Linked DNA regions of Homo sapiens. The protein of the gene in region 4 purifies or fractionates together with the protein of the main gene of each other region. This does not show direct contact. Each region holds a gene or a part of one and is shown on either strand. Other genes may lie near its edges.

Region 1 (3,500 bases), on a different chromosome or scaffold from region 4:
CAACATGTGGGAGGCTGGTGCCTGAGGAGAAATGGGACAGCCTTTGTTCCATAAAAGGAAAAATGTCTCATTAGCAATTATTACTCACTGGTATTACAGGGATGTGAACATATAACAGTGGCTTGTGGGAGGGCTTTGGGTGGAAATAAGAGGAAAGAGACTGGGTTCTGTATGTGAGTTGGTGAGGGCAGACAGAAGAGATGCCAATCAGTGTGAATGAGGGGAGGAACAGGAAGAACCTTAATGGAAGATAGAACTCAGAGCCAGGAGAGACCATGGGAATAAAAGCCTAGGGACACTTGTGACATCTTAGAGGATAGCGGTGTTGGACATCACAAAAGCCATGAGCTGGCTATGGTCCTTAGCTCATATCTAGCTCATGTCCACCTCTACAGACCATGAATATTCAGCTAAGATTTGCCCTGGATTCAGTGTCTGTCAGGCTGAGGATTCAACTGTGGGTGTTCTGACTCTGAGGCTGCCTAGGCTCTCAGTGTTGCAAAGGTAAAATTCCATGAAACTGCCTCTGGTACCTCTAGCTATCACAAACCTGAAATGCAGCCTGACTCCTAGCCAGGCTGACATAACTCCTCTCACTAAAGGCCTATTTACCATAGTAAAGAGAAAGAGAAAATCTTGAAAGAGGTAGAGGTAGAGGCAGAGGGAGGAAAACTCCACCTTATCTAAAAAGGAATAAGGATGAAAATGACAGCAGACTTCTCATCAGAAACTATGCAAGCAAGGGAAGAATGGAGTAAAATATTTAAAATGTTGAAAATTCCATGAAACTCATTCTTTGGGAATCATGACATAGGCCCATGATTCGCACGCATTTAGTTGGGTACAATTATTTTCCTCCCCTAGAACAGGGGTCAGGAAACTATAGCCTGTAAGCCAATACAGCCATAGCTTATTTTTGTGTGTACCTAAAGCTAAGAATGGTGCTTATATTTTTCAAAGGTTGTAAAAAAAATGAAGAGGAAAGAGAAGATGAAGAAGATGCAGAGGAGGAAGTCAAAAAGAAGAATCTGCCCTCATGTGGACCACACAGCCTAAAATACATACTACTAGGCCCTTTATGGAAAAAAAATTGTCAATCCTTTCTCTAGGTTGTGGGCTCCACAATCTTTCACCTCCATTCTTGGTTTTAGGAGATGCTTGGTAAAAGCTCATAAAGTCACAAACGGCTTTACTTTAGGGGTTAAAATGAGGGAGCAAAAGGAATTTTCAAATGGGCCCAGGTCAACTTTGAATGTTTAATTATTTGCTTTTCTGGACGGCATGTCTCCTACCTAACAAATGGCAATACCACCATCCACCTTTCAGAGCCGCTGCGAGAATTAAACGAGGTATTGCATGTGAATGGCTGGTGAGAGTAGCTGCTCAATAAATGGGAGCTTCTTTCCTTTCTTTCTTTATTTTGGTTTTTCTTTCTGTAATTGCAATGAGAGCCAGCTTCTGGGTGGCCCTACATTCTCTTGTGCCCTCATCTTCCTTCTTGACACTTCCCCACCTTTGGGCTTTCTAGGACCAAAATAACTGTCCATCTTTCCTTTCCCCTCCCCAAAGACCATCTCAGCTTCTCTGGTCCCTGCAGCCTCCCAACATGGAATGACTGGGGACAAATGTAATTGTAAAGATCCCTTGGAGAAAGGACCCATCTCAGGGTAGGAGATATTTCAGTTGAACAGGTGTCCCCGTTACCAATTGCAGCAGCCATTCAGGGGCTTCTGTGGCCTCCATGTGAGGGCAGTGCCATGGAGCACCTTCCCATATTACCCAGGGCACCGAGCTCCTTTGGGGCCTTTCAGCTGGCCAGATCTCCAGCATGGGTCCCTGCCAGAAAGATGGGCTGCCTCTGGGGACCCTGACTGCTGCCTTGTATGCCAGAATGGGGAGAGAGATAGGTTTGGTGGATGAAATCACCACCCAAGCTCTACAAGCCTTTAAATCTTCTCACATCTGCTCCCATCTCCCCCCATTTCTGTCTGCCAGCCACCAAGTTTTCCAATTTTGCCTCCTTAACATCTTCTGACATCCTCAGCTGTTCAACTGAGGGCCCGAATGTCTGGTTAGTCTAGTGTCTTTAGTATCTGATCTCTGCTTGACTCAACTTTCTCTCTGCTGTAACGGCCTTCGCTTCTTATTCTATCTGGATTTAAGAGAAAAGACGAAAACCGTTTTCTAGGGGAAACCTTCCTTTCTTGAATTCCCATCTTCTGCCCCTGGTTGGATGCCCCCACCCCCTTACTTTCAGCTGAATACATAGTTCTAGCATCACTGGGTGAGTCAATCCTTGCATGCTCTTGGGTCCAGTGGGTGCAATGGAAGAGGAAGAGCAGAAAGGGAGGGAACAAGCACTCCAGGGTTCTGAGCTGGGACTGTCTCAGCCTGAAGCTCATGCATGCTCGGTCCCCTCCACCTTCCACAGGGCTGCCCCAGCAGTGACCAAGCCCCGTCACATACACTGTATGTAAACCAGGCTGAGGCAGGGAGCAAAACTGGCACCTGGAGAGTGAGGAGAGGTCAACAGAGGAAGGGGAGGGGCCCTGCAGGTCTCCACTCCAGGAGGACCAGAGCACTGAACAATGAGGGGGGTGGGAGCTTCCAGGGGAGGCTGGAGACATGGGGCCACCTCCACTGCCCACCTGTTTACCACCTGCCTGTTTCCCATTGTTAGAGGCAGGTGGGGAGGGGAAAGCTAGGCTGGCTACTGTGTCCTGGAGGGGAGAGTCCTAGCATAGGGCTAGGTAGTAGGAGGCGAGAACATGGGAAACTCAGAGAACAAATGGCACGTGAGGCGTGGAGTAGTCTTAGAGGGAGATCTGGATCCACGCCTTCATTTACAGATGAAAACCCAGGCCCAGGAGGGGAAGTGGCTTGCCCAGGAATCAACCAACAGCTTCCAAGCAGGACTCTGCCTCCAAGCAGCTCATGTCTCCTAAGCACCTTTCCACCCTCTGGCTCAGTGATCACTCTTTGTGTCCCTATCTCTTTTTTTGTCCCCATCTGGACTGTGGGCTCCAGGAGGCAAAAGCTACCGGCTTGCACTCTGCCCCTTCGGAGCTTGCAGGCTGAGGTTTGCATTGGTTGAGTTTCTATCAATGGGATTGGGCACTGGACCAGTTAGAATCTGGCAAAGGGTCATGTTTTGTATACTGCCCACCCTTGAGGCTCTTCCCCAGATGGGAACAATGCCATTTCTGCCCTCATTTGTTATGTGTCAGTGACATATTTTTTAAAATAATTAAAGATGATAGCAGAGTAGAATCATAGAATCTTGGAAGTGGCCAGGCTCCTTGGGGATTATCTTGCCCTGTGAAGATGGCCCCAGCCCCACCTGGCCACCTCCAGACACCAAGGCCCCTGGCTGGAATGTGCTCCTCCCACATGTGCAGGGCAGGAGCCCCAGGTGCATCCAGACAGAGGGACTTCCTGGCCTAGTCTAGCAGCACCCCTGCAAGGAGGGAGCTCTAGCTCCTACGCGCCCTGGAGTGGTT
Region 2 (3,500 bases), on a different chromosome or scaffold from region 4:
ATACCATTCTTGCTGTCAGGTTTTTTTAGGATTAAACAAATGACAAAGACTGTGGGGATGGTGTGTGGCATACAGCAGGTGATGGACTCTTCTGTATCTCAGGCTGCCTTCCTGCCCCTGAGGGGTTAAAATGCCAGGGTCCTGGGGGCCCCAGGGCATTCTAAGCCAGCTCCCACTGTCCCAGGAAAACAGCATAGGGGAGGGGAGGTGGGAGGCAAGGCCAGGGGCTGCTTCCTCCACTCTGAGGCTCCCTTGCTCTTGAGGCAAAGGAGGGCAGTGGAGAGCAGCCAGGCTGCAGTCAGCACAGCTAAAGTCCTGGCTCTGCTGTGGCCTTAGTGGGGGCCCAGGTCCCTCTCCAGCCCCAGTCTCCTCCTTCTGTCCAATGAGAAAGCTGGGATCAGGGGTCCCTGAGGCCCCTGTCCACTCTGCATGCCTCGATGGTGAAGCTCTGTTGGTATGGCAGAGGGGAGGCTGCTCAGGCATCTGCATTTCCCCTGCCAATCTAGAGGATGAGGAAAGCTCTCAGGAATAGTAAGCAGAATGTTTGCCCTGGATGAATAACTGAGCTGCCAATTAACAAGGGGCAGGGAGCCTTAGACAGAAGGTACCAAATATGCCTGATGCTCCAACATTTTATTTGTAATATCCAAGACACCCTCAAATAAACATATGATTCCAATAAAAATGCACAGCCACGATGGCATCTCTTAGCCTGACATCGCCACGATGTAGAAATTCTGCATCTTCCTCTAGTTTTGAATTATCCCCACACAATCTTTTTCGGCAGCTTGGATGGTCAGTTTCAGCACCTTTTACAGATGATGAAGCTGAGCCTCGAGGGATGTGTGTCGTCAAGGGGGCTCAGGGCTTCTCAGGGAGGGGACTCATGGTTTCTTTATTCTGCTACACTCTTCCAAACCTTCACTCACCCCTGGTGATGCCCACCTTCCCCTCTCTCCAGGCAAATGGGAGAGACCCTTTGAAGTCAAGGACACCGAGGAAGAGGACTTCCACGTGGACCAGGTGACCACCGTGAAGGTGCCTATGATGAAGCGTTTAGGCATGTTTAACATCCAGCACTGTAAGAAGCTGTCCAGCTGGGTGCTGCTGATGAAATACCTGGGCAATGCCACCGCCATCTTCTTCCTGCCTGATGAGGGGAAACTACAGCACCTGGAAAATGAACTCACCCACGATATCATCACCAAGTTCCTGGAAAATGAAGACAGAAGGTGATTCCCCAACCTGAGGGTGACCAAGAAGCTGCCCACACCTCTTAGCCATGTTGGGACTGAGGCCCATCAGGACTGGCCAGAGGGCTGAGGAGGGTGAACCCCACATCCCTGGGTCACTGCTACTCTGTATAAACTTGGCTTCCAGAATGAGGCCACCACTGAGTTCAGGCAGCGCCATCCATGCTCCATGAGGAGGACAGTACCCAGGGGTGAGGAGGTAAAGGTCTCGTCCCTGGGGACTTCCCACTCCAGTGTGGACACTGTCCCTTCCCAATATCCAGTGCCCAGGGCAGGGACAGCAGCACCACCACACGTTCTGGCAGAACCAAAAAGGAACAGATGGGCTTCCTGGCAAAGGCAGCAGTGGAGTGTGGAGTTCAAGGGTAGAATGTCCCTGGGGGGACGGGGGAAGAGCCTGTGTGGCAAGGCCCAGAAAAGCAAGGTTCGGAATTGGAACAGCCAGGCCATGTTCGCAGAAGGCTTGCGTTTCTCTGTCACTTTATCGGTGCTGTTAGATTGGGTGTCCTGTAGTAAGTGATACTTAAACATGAGCCACACATTAGTGTATGTGTGTGCATTCGTGATTATGCCCATGCCCTGCTGATCTAGTTCGTTTTGTACACTGTAAAACCAAGATGAAAATACAAAAGGTGTCGGGTTCATAATAGGAATCGAGGCTGGAATTTCTCTGTTCCATGCCAGCACCTCCTGAGGTCTCTGCTCCAGGGGTTGAGAAAGAACAAAGAGGCTGAGAGGGTAACGGATCAGAGAGCCCAGAGCCAAGCTGCCCGCTCACACCAGACCCTGCTCAGGGTGGCATTGTCTCCCCATGGAAAACCAGAGAGGAGCACTCAGCCTGGTGTGGTCACTCTTCTCTTATCCACTAAACGGTTGTCACTGGGCACTGCCACCAGCCCCGTGTTTCTCTGGGTGTAGGGCCCTGGGGATGTTACAGGCTGGGGGCCAGGTGACCCAACACTACAGGGCAAGATGAGACAGGCTTCCAGGACACCTAGAATATCAGAGGAGGTGGCATTTCAAGCTTTTGTGATTCATTCGATGTTAACATTCTTTGACTCAATGTAGAAGAGCTAAAAGTAGAACAAACCAAAGCCGAGTTCCCATCTTAGTGTGGGTGGAGGACACAGGAGTAAGTGGCAGAAATAATCAGAAAAGAAAACACTTGCACTGTGGTGGGTCCCAGAAGAACAAGAGGAATGCTGTGCCATGCCTTGAATTTCTTTTCTGCACGACAGGTCTGCCAGCTTACATTTACCCAAACTGTCCATTACTGGAACCTATGATCTGAAGAGCGTCCTGGGTCAACTGGGCATCACTAAGGTCTTCAGCAATGGGGCTGACCTCTCCGGGGTCACAGAGGAGGCACCCCTGAAGCTCTCCAAGGTGAGATCACCCTGACGACCTTGTTGCACCCTGGTATCTGTAGGGAAGAATGTGTGGGGGCTGCAGCTCTGTCCTGAGGCTGAGGAAGGGGCCGAGGGAAACAAATGAAGACCCAGGCTGAGCTCCTGAAGATGCCCGTGATTCACTGACACGGGACGTGGTCAAACAGCAAAGCCAGGCAGGGGACTGCTGTGCAGCTGGCACTTTCGGGGCCTCCCTTGAGGTTGTGTCACTGACCCTGAATTTCAACTTTGCCCAAGACCTTCTAGACATTGGGCCTTGATTTATCCATACTGACACAGAAAGGTTTGGGCTAAGTTGTTTCAAAGGAATTTCTGACTCCTTCGATCTGTGAGATTTGGTGTCTGAATTAATGAATGATTTCAGCTAAAGATGACACTTATTTTGGAAAACTAAAGGCGACCAATGAACAACTGCAGTTCCATGAATGGCTGCATTATCTTGGGGTCTGGGCACTGTGAAGGTCACTGCCAGGGTCCGTGTCCTCAAGGAGCTTCAAGCCGTGTACTAGAAAGGAGAGAGCCCTGGAGGCAGACGTGGAGTGACGATGCTCTTCCCTGTTCTGAGTTGTGGGTGCACCTGAGCAGGGGGAGAGGCGCTTGTCAGGAAGATGGACAGAGGGGAGCCAGCCCCATCAGCCAAAGCCTTGAGGAGGAGCAAGGCCTATGTGACAGGGAGGGAGAGGATGTGCAGGGCCAGGGCCGTCCAGGGGGAGTGAGCGCTTCCTGGGAGGTGTCCACGTGAGCCTTGCTCGAGGCCTGGGATCAGCCTTACAACGTGTCTCTGCTTCTCTCCCCTCCAGGCCGTGCATAAGGCTGTGCTGACCATCGACGAGAAAGG
Region 3 (3,500 bases), on a different chromosome or scaffold from region 4:
GAGGCCTACCTTTCAGCTTCCCACAGCACCCAGGAACCTTAAGAGCTGCTGACCTGCTGGTGGGCCTGGCCAGAGCCTTCTCACCAGGCACAGCTATGCCTGGTCGTCAAGACAACCAACAGGCAGCCAGAACTACGGAAAATAAACTTTTTTATCTGGATTCCAGGACCCTTATCCTAACCTTTTACTTTACTATAGTACCTCTGCAACCTACGGGGCAGGAAAAAAAGGGAAGAAAAAATACTGGGGAAGAAAACACAGCACTGTTTGGCAGCTCCTTTGGCGCGCAGGAAACTGCCACCCCAGCCTTGGCTTCCTGGGGCCAGGTTCCAGATGTGTGTTGACAAACTGCAGCTTCGATCATCTCCGTGTGCCAGGATCTTGTGGCCGCGGCAAAGCACCTCCCCTATCTACTCTTGCAGCACTTACTGGCCTCCATTATAGGCATAATCAGCCTTGTTGTGCATTATCAGCTTGTTGTCAACAAAGTAGAAGCTGTCAGAGCGGGTCTCGTAAGGATTTTCAATCATTAGACGAACTGCAAGTCAGGCAAAGGGGGAAGAAAAAAGCAAAGAATTATGTTTGAGTCTGCCCCACAGGGTAGGTGGGAGAAAACTTTGCATCCCCTCCAAAATAAGCCAGCGCTTCAGAGTATACTCTGCCAGAATAACGATGAGGTCAGAACAGAGGGAGGCAGCCCTTGACAGCTGGGGAGACCACAGAGGCCCCCCAGCTGAACATGATCTCCATTTCAACATAAGGATGCAATCAACTCTCCACCATGGCCTCCTCTGTCATCTCCAGCCTGGATTCTTCAGCCAAGATACCAGGGAAATGTGCTCACCCCTCTTCCCAACATGGACCCCACCAACCTATTTACTCAGTGCTCTCAGCTGACCAAAGCCAGCCCTGGCCTCTGGTCAGTGGCCCACCTCTAGACATTCCACTCCAAATTCAGAAATCTGAGCCTCACTGTGCCCACCTCCACACACAACCCTGACAACCCAAGGAAACCTAGATTGGAATGAGTGCAAGGAACACAGGGCAGGGAGCCTTCTCCGGAGACCTTCTGGGTATTAACTCGCAAATGATTCAGCAATAGGTCTGCCTGTCTTGGGATCTAAAGTAAAGTCTTGTTTGTTCAGGCAATTGCCCAGACCTCTTTAACCATACTGGAGAGTAAAGATAATTAACAGTCACTACCTCTGATCAGTTTTGAGTTAATGATTACATGCCATTTTGAGTCTTTAACCATACTGGAGAATAAAGATAATACTACCTCTGATCAGTTTTGAGTTAATGATTACATGCCATTTGGAGTCCCCTGGAGGAAATGCTGTTGCTCACCACAGTTCTCAAAAAGTGAAACTGATTTTTTAAAGTTCTTTGAACCCACCAATGCCAAAACTACTCGGTTTATATGCATAATATTGCCCTCCAGGCTGATTTGGCTTCATGGGTAAAACTTATAACACTATACATCATCTTTTCTTGCAAGTATCTACATATTCTAGCCAGCTTGGGAAGAGGGGTTCAAGTCAGAACCAGATGCTGTCGTCAACACCCTGCCCCACATCTCAGCAATCCTCATTTTACCTGGGAACTGTACTGCCACACGATTAAAGGTTATCTGGTTTTCAGAATATGACAATTCTTAAGGACCTGGGATTCTGAGAGGACCAATCAGTGATGCCAGCAAGGCAACTACAGGCATCACTAGTCACAGGATTCTATTCACACCCTCATAAATGACTTGAATTTTCCCTAACTATTCACAAAGGATGCGAACCTGAGGTGGCTAGGCCAAAGTTGCAGAAACTGACAAGGGCTGTTCTTTCTCTCTCGTTTGGTCCCCATCTTCCCTTGCCGAGGCTACACGGCAGCAGCCTTCTCCCTCTGGTGCCCTCCCCAGGTCTAGGCCACTCTTCCTCAAACAGTATTTCCACCTTCTCACTCCTGCCCCAAAATCTACAACAGCCCCATTCCTTCCTGCTGGATCTATCTCAACACTTTATCCAATCAACTCTCTATCCTGCAGGGAATGGAAAAGAAGTCCTCTGGCCTTGATTCTATTTAGCCTGCAGTTTCACATCTAGCTCTGATTAAGAAAAAAGTGAAGGGCCAATGACTAAAACACAATGGAAAACCATGACTAACAGTGCACAGGAGAGGTGCTTTATCTGATCAGCGTCCCAGGGATGGTCACAGGCCTCCTTTTATCTCCCTTAGGCACTGTCTTCCCACAGGAGGCATCTAAAAGGATGGCCTGTATTATTAAAACCTTCAGACCGGCCGGGCGCAGTGGCTCAAGCCTGTAATTCCAGCACTTTGGGAGGCCGAAGCAGGCGGATCACGAGGTCAGGAGATTGGGACTATCCTGGCTAACACGGTGAAACCCCGTCTCTACTAAAAATACAAAAAATTAGCCGGGCATGGTGGTGGGCACCTGTAGTCTCAGCTACTCAGGAGGCTGAGGCAGAATGGCATGAACCCAGGAGGCAGAGCTTGCAGTGAGCCGAGATTGCGCCACTGCACTCCAGCCTGGGTGACAAGATCAAGACTCCGTCTCAAAAAGAAAAAAAAAAAAAACCTTCAGACTGAGCACAGTGGCTCACGCCTGTAATCCCCAGTACTTTGGGAGGATGAGGCAGGTGGATCACAGGGTCAGGAGTTCGAGACCAGCCTGACCAACATGGTGAAACTCTGTCTCTACAAAAAATACAAAAAATTAGCCGGGCATGGTGGCAGGTGCCTATAATCCCAGCTACTCGAGAGGCTGAGGCAGGAGAATCACTTGAACCCAGGAGACGGAGGATGCACTGAGCCAAGACTGCGCCACTGCACTCCAGCCTGGGCAATAGGGCAAGACTCCGTCTCAAAAAAAAAAGAAAAAAACAAAAGGGCCGGGGGCAGTGGCTCACACCTGTAATCCCAGCATTGTGGGAGGCCGAGGAGAGTGGATCATGAGGTCAAGTGTTCGAGACCAGCCTGACCAACATGGTGAAATCCCGTCTCTACTGAAAATACAAAAACTAGCCAAGTGTGGTGTAATCCCAGCTACTCAGGAGGCTGAGGCAGGAGAATCGCTTGAACCTGGGAGGCAGAGGTTACAGTGAGCCGAGATCGCGCTGCTGCACTCCAGCCTGGGCAACAGACAGAGCAAGACTCTGTCTCAGGGGAAAAAAACAAAAACAAAAACAAACAAACCCTTCATTGCTCCCATACGGGCCGAGTCAGAGTTTAGAACAGGAGCCAGGAGCAATAGGAAATGAGAAGCCTGAGGTCAAATGACTAGATACGCATCATGTCAGCACTGCCACGAGACAATGCCAGGGCGCTGGACCAGATGGGTTTCAAGGTTTGTTCCTTGTAGCCCTCAGAATCTAGAGTGCTGTAAGGGTCAGGGGATACATACTGACATCCTCCGAAAGCTGGGGAAACTCATAGATATGTTCACAAGTGTTCCTACTGCTGGGGATGCAGAAGCCAAAATCAAAGTC
Region 4 (3,500 bases):
ACATGGTTATACCATTTTACAGTCTCACCAGCAAAGAATACAAGTATGAGATTCCAGATACTACAGCCCTGTCTTTCCTATCCTAAAGTCAAGAGCATGGTTTGACTAGTGTTCTTCTGGGGCCAGAGGGAATCTGAGGCAGTGGGGAACATGTTTTTATAGGTGGAGGGGCCATAGGAAGTCCCTGACTCTGCCTGAAAATGGGTTTAAACTTAAATCATTGCAGACGATCAGATGAATATTTTATTTTTAGAGATTTTCAGAGAAGGGAATTCCATAGGGGAATGTACCCTTGGTTGTGAAAGAAGATTGATTGAGTGCTTTCTATAAAAAGAAAAATAACCCCAAGCCCCACAGAATTTTACTAAGCTTCTGCCTAGAAACTCCCGGGGGATTTCTGGTCTATTGGTAGGGTTGATATTAACTTGGTGGAGAGTCCCCTTGGATTTCACCGGCTTGGTCAGCCGGCTACTGAAAGGGGTTGTGTTTATTTTGAGGGGCAGGTCAGATTTGGCTTTGTTAAGACTCAGAGAATGACTCTCTTGTGAAAGTGATCTGGCCTCTCAGTGAGAAACATGGCCTGTCAACACCCCTCTTATTGTCCTGACTGGGAAAATGGGCCTGTGCCCCTCGGGTCCCCTAATAACTTAGTCCCTCTCTGTGGTGCCAACAGCCAAAGCTTGCCTTGGCTGATCTAGGAAACGGGAAGTGAACTTTTCTGTCTGAGTGGGACCCCAGGATGCATGTTTTGCATCCCATCAAGGTGTCCCAGGGCTGACCAAGCTTTGCAGGAGTCAGATGGCAGACAGCTCAGTCTTGAGACATTGCACTGTGTTTGGGGACTGTTCCCTCCTCCTTAAAAGCCTAGCGCAGTGCCTGCCAGAGGGTAGGGACACAGTAAACATTGGCTGAGTGATTTCGTGACTCGTGATACCCATCTGGGTGATCGCCTCTCTGGAGGTTGACAGTGGGTGTCAAGATGTCAGGGCCCCAGGATGTATTTTACTCGAGGGCACTTTACCATGGCTTGGAAAACACATTCAAAGGGTTTGGGCCTAGGAAAATTTTGTTCAGTGTAAACTTTCATTGTATTAACACTGTTCTCTTTATTACTGATTTTAATATTGTTAATAAAATACAAATAATTATAGCTGCCACTTGCTGAGTGCTTACCCTTTGCCAGGCACTGTTGTACATTTTGCACGCATTATCTGAATTTAATCCTCATGAGAGGCGAGTACTTATATTATCTTCACTTCAGCCCTGAGGAAATTGAAGCTTGCAAGGTTAACTTTCCCTAAGTTCACGTTTTCATTTTTCTAAGACCTTAAGGGAAGAGACTGTGACATTCTGGTTTTTTGAAGGCAAAATCTGTCTACAATCACGGATTTCCAAATACACAAAGCCATATTATAATAGAAATGTAAATTAGATAATCAGAACAGCGTTACAGGAAATGATACACTGCAATCATTTTCTTTAGTTTTTTTTTGTTGTTGTTTGTTTGTTTTCATTTTGTCTTAAGCTTACTGAGTTTGGCACAGCCAGGGGCTTATACTAATTTTGATGATAATTTAAAATATTATTGGTTGATTAGGATTACAATTTTATTGAAGGAACAGAAAGACGTTGCCAGCTGAACTGTTCAATACAGTAGCCACTAGTTACATGTGGCTATTTACATTTAAATGTAATGAATTAAAAGAAAAGAAAATTTAAAATTCAGTCCTTCCGTCTCACTCACCGCATTTCAAGTGGCCCAGAGCCACGTGTGGTTAGTGGCTACTGAATTGGATAGCACAGATAGTAGTTTCATCATTGCTGAAAGTTCTGTTTGACAGTGCTGCTCTGTGGTGTTTTTTTTTTACCCTTCAGTTTAAGAATTGGTAACACACTTGGCTAGGGCTTCTGCTATTTTTCACTGACAAAGGGATACATTTAGCCAGATGTTGCTTTTGTGTTTACCTTTTAAAGGGGTGTGTGTGTGTGTGTGTGTGTGTGTGCGTGCGTGTGATCTTTCCTTCCATTCACATTCAGTTTTTGACATACGTTTGAATCTCCCTTTTCTCCTGGGCCCCAAAGGGGCTTTCATTATTAGCATTGCATGTTTTATCAAGACACTTTCTCATAAAAAATTGGTACAGCAGGCAAGCGATAGCCACTGCTTGAACCCGGCTAATTCCTTGCTCTCCAAATAAGAATTCAGTTCAGCTTTTAAATATGCAATTGTGTGACTTACTCCCTACCTGGGCTGAATTCAGGAGGAAAAATCACTCTCAGTGGGCCAGAACCAAAGAGCTGGAAAATCAGGTGACATTCTGCAGTGATGGCTCCCTGCCAGGACTGAGATGGAGGAGACACCATTTGGGGTACTTGAAAGCTTCGTTTAGAGTTTTCCTGGATTTGACCTGCCTCCGGGGTGCAGGGATTGATGGAGAAGGCTGGCAGCTTTGATGTCCCAGTTACATGGGACAGTGGAGGGCTGGTACTGTGGCTGTCACCTCTGCTGGGGTGTACAGTACTTCAGAACCAGCCTCACAGGAGAGAGGAAGCCACTCCTCAGGTGTCTGCAAGCAGCAAGTCCAGCCAGAAGTGGGAAATCAACATAAGCTATGCTTGGCTCAGTTGTTTGATGCCGACAAACTCTTATGCTACTTTAAGATCCCGTATTGGAGGTTTCCACACTTCTTCAACCAGGAAGCCAGATGCACCTCACTGACAACTTTCTCTGGCGTTTACACCTGAAATGTCCCGTCGTGTTGTTCCATAGGCAGACCTCCTTGAGGGTTACAATTTATTCTTTACGGGGGCCTATCAGCTTTCATATGTGTGCATGTGTGTGTGTATATATATGTGTGTATGTGTGTGTGTGTGTATGTATGTATGTATGTGCGTTTGTGTGTGTTTGTGTGTATGTGAGTGTATGTGTGTGTTTGTGTGTATGTGAGTGTGCATGTATGTGTGTATGTGTTTGTGTGTATGTGTGTATGTGTATGTATGTGTGTGTATGTGTGTGTTTATGTGCATTGTGTGTGTATGTATGTGCGTGTTTGTGGATGTGTGCATGTGTGTGTGTATGTGTGTGTGTGTGTGTGTGTGTTTTGAAACTCCCTACTTTGCCTTTTACCCTTTGTCCTGAGGAATCCTTCAAGTTTTATGGAATAGCGCTAAAGTTCCTCAGATTTGGGGGAACTGTTGTAATAGATTTTACTCAGAAAGTTGGGTAAGAGATTTGGTTAATCATAGACTCTGGTTAATGGAACCTGATCATATCATGTATTAGCAAATTTTGGAAATATAAAGCACAAGAAATCAGGTTGTTTATTTAAACACTTCTTTAATTTAGAGAGGTCTTTTGGGATTTTCTGGTGTCTTATGATACCTTATAAGTGCCCTTTTCAGTGTGGCATAATCATGACTATAGGCCAGAGTAGGTCAAAAGGTGTCTTCATAATGAGCAACAAGTAATCCCAGTAGAGTACTAAAACGGTTAATATTTA

Evidence for each region.
Region 1: the proteins of RFTN1 (region 4) and SERPINA3 purify together in Homo sapiens (co-immunoprecipitation; one large-scale study listed by IntAct). This does not show direct contact.
Region 2: the proteins of RFTN1 (region 4) and SERPINA1 purify together in Homo sapiens (co-immunoprecipitation; one large-scale study listed by IntAct). This does not show direct contact.
Region 3: the proteins of RFTN1 (region 4) and UNC119B purify together in Homo sapiens (co-immunoprecipitation; one large-scale study listed by IntAct). This does not show direct contact.

What each region holds. Positions count from the first base shown.
Region 1 is NC_000014.9:94,615,391-94,618,890, reverse strand, and holds part of SERPINA3 (alpha-1-antichymotrypsin precursor), read right to left. Parts: intron 1-3,500. UniProt on the Homo sapiens protein: Although its physiological function is unclear, it can inhibit neutrophil cathepsin G and mast cell chymase, both of which can convert angiotensin-1 to the active angiotensin-2.
Region 2 is NC_000014.9:94,378,603-94,382,102, reverse strand, and holds part of SERPINA1 (alpha-1-antitrypsin precursor), read left to right. Parts: intron 1-961; coding exon 962-1,232; intron 1,233-2,491; coding exon 2,492-2,639; intron 2,640-3,462; coding exon 3,463-3,500.
Region 3 is NC_000012.12:120,716,958-120,720,457, reverse strand, and holds part of UNC119B (protein unc-119 homolog B), read right to left. Parts: coding exon 3,416-3,500; intron 539-3,415; coding exon 426-538; 3' UTR 1-425. UniProt on the Homo sapiens protein: Myristoyl-binding protein that acts as a cargo adapter: specifically binds the myristoyl moiety of a subset of N-terminally myristoylated proteins and is required for their localization.
Region 4 is NC_000003.12:16,507,200-16,510,699, reverse strand, and holds part of RFTN1 (raftlin), read left to right. Parts: intron 1-3,500. UniProt on the Homo sapiens protein: Involved in protein trafficking via association with clathrin and AP2 complex.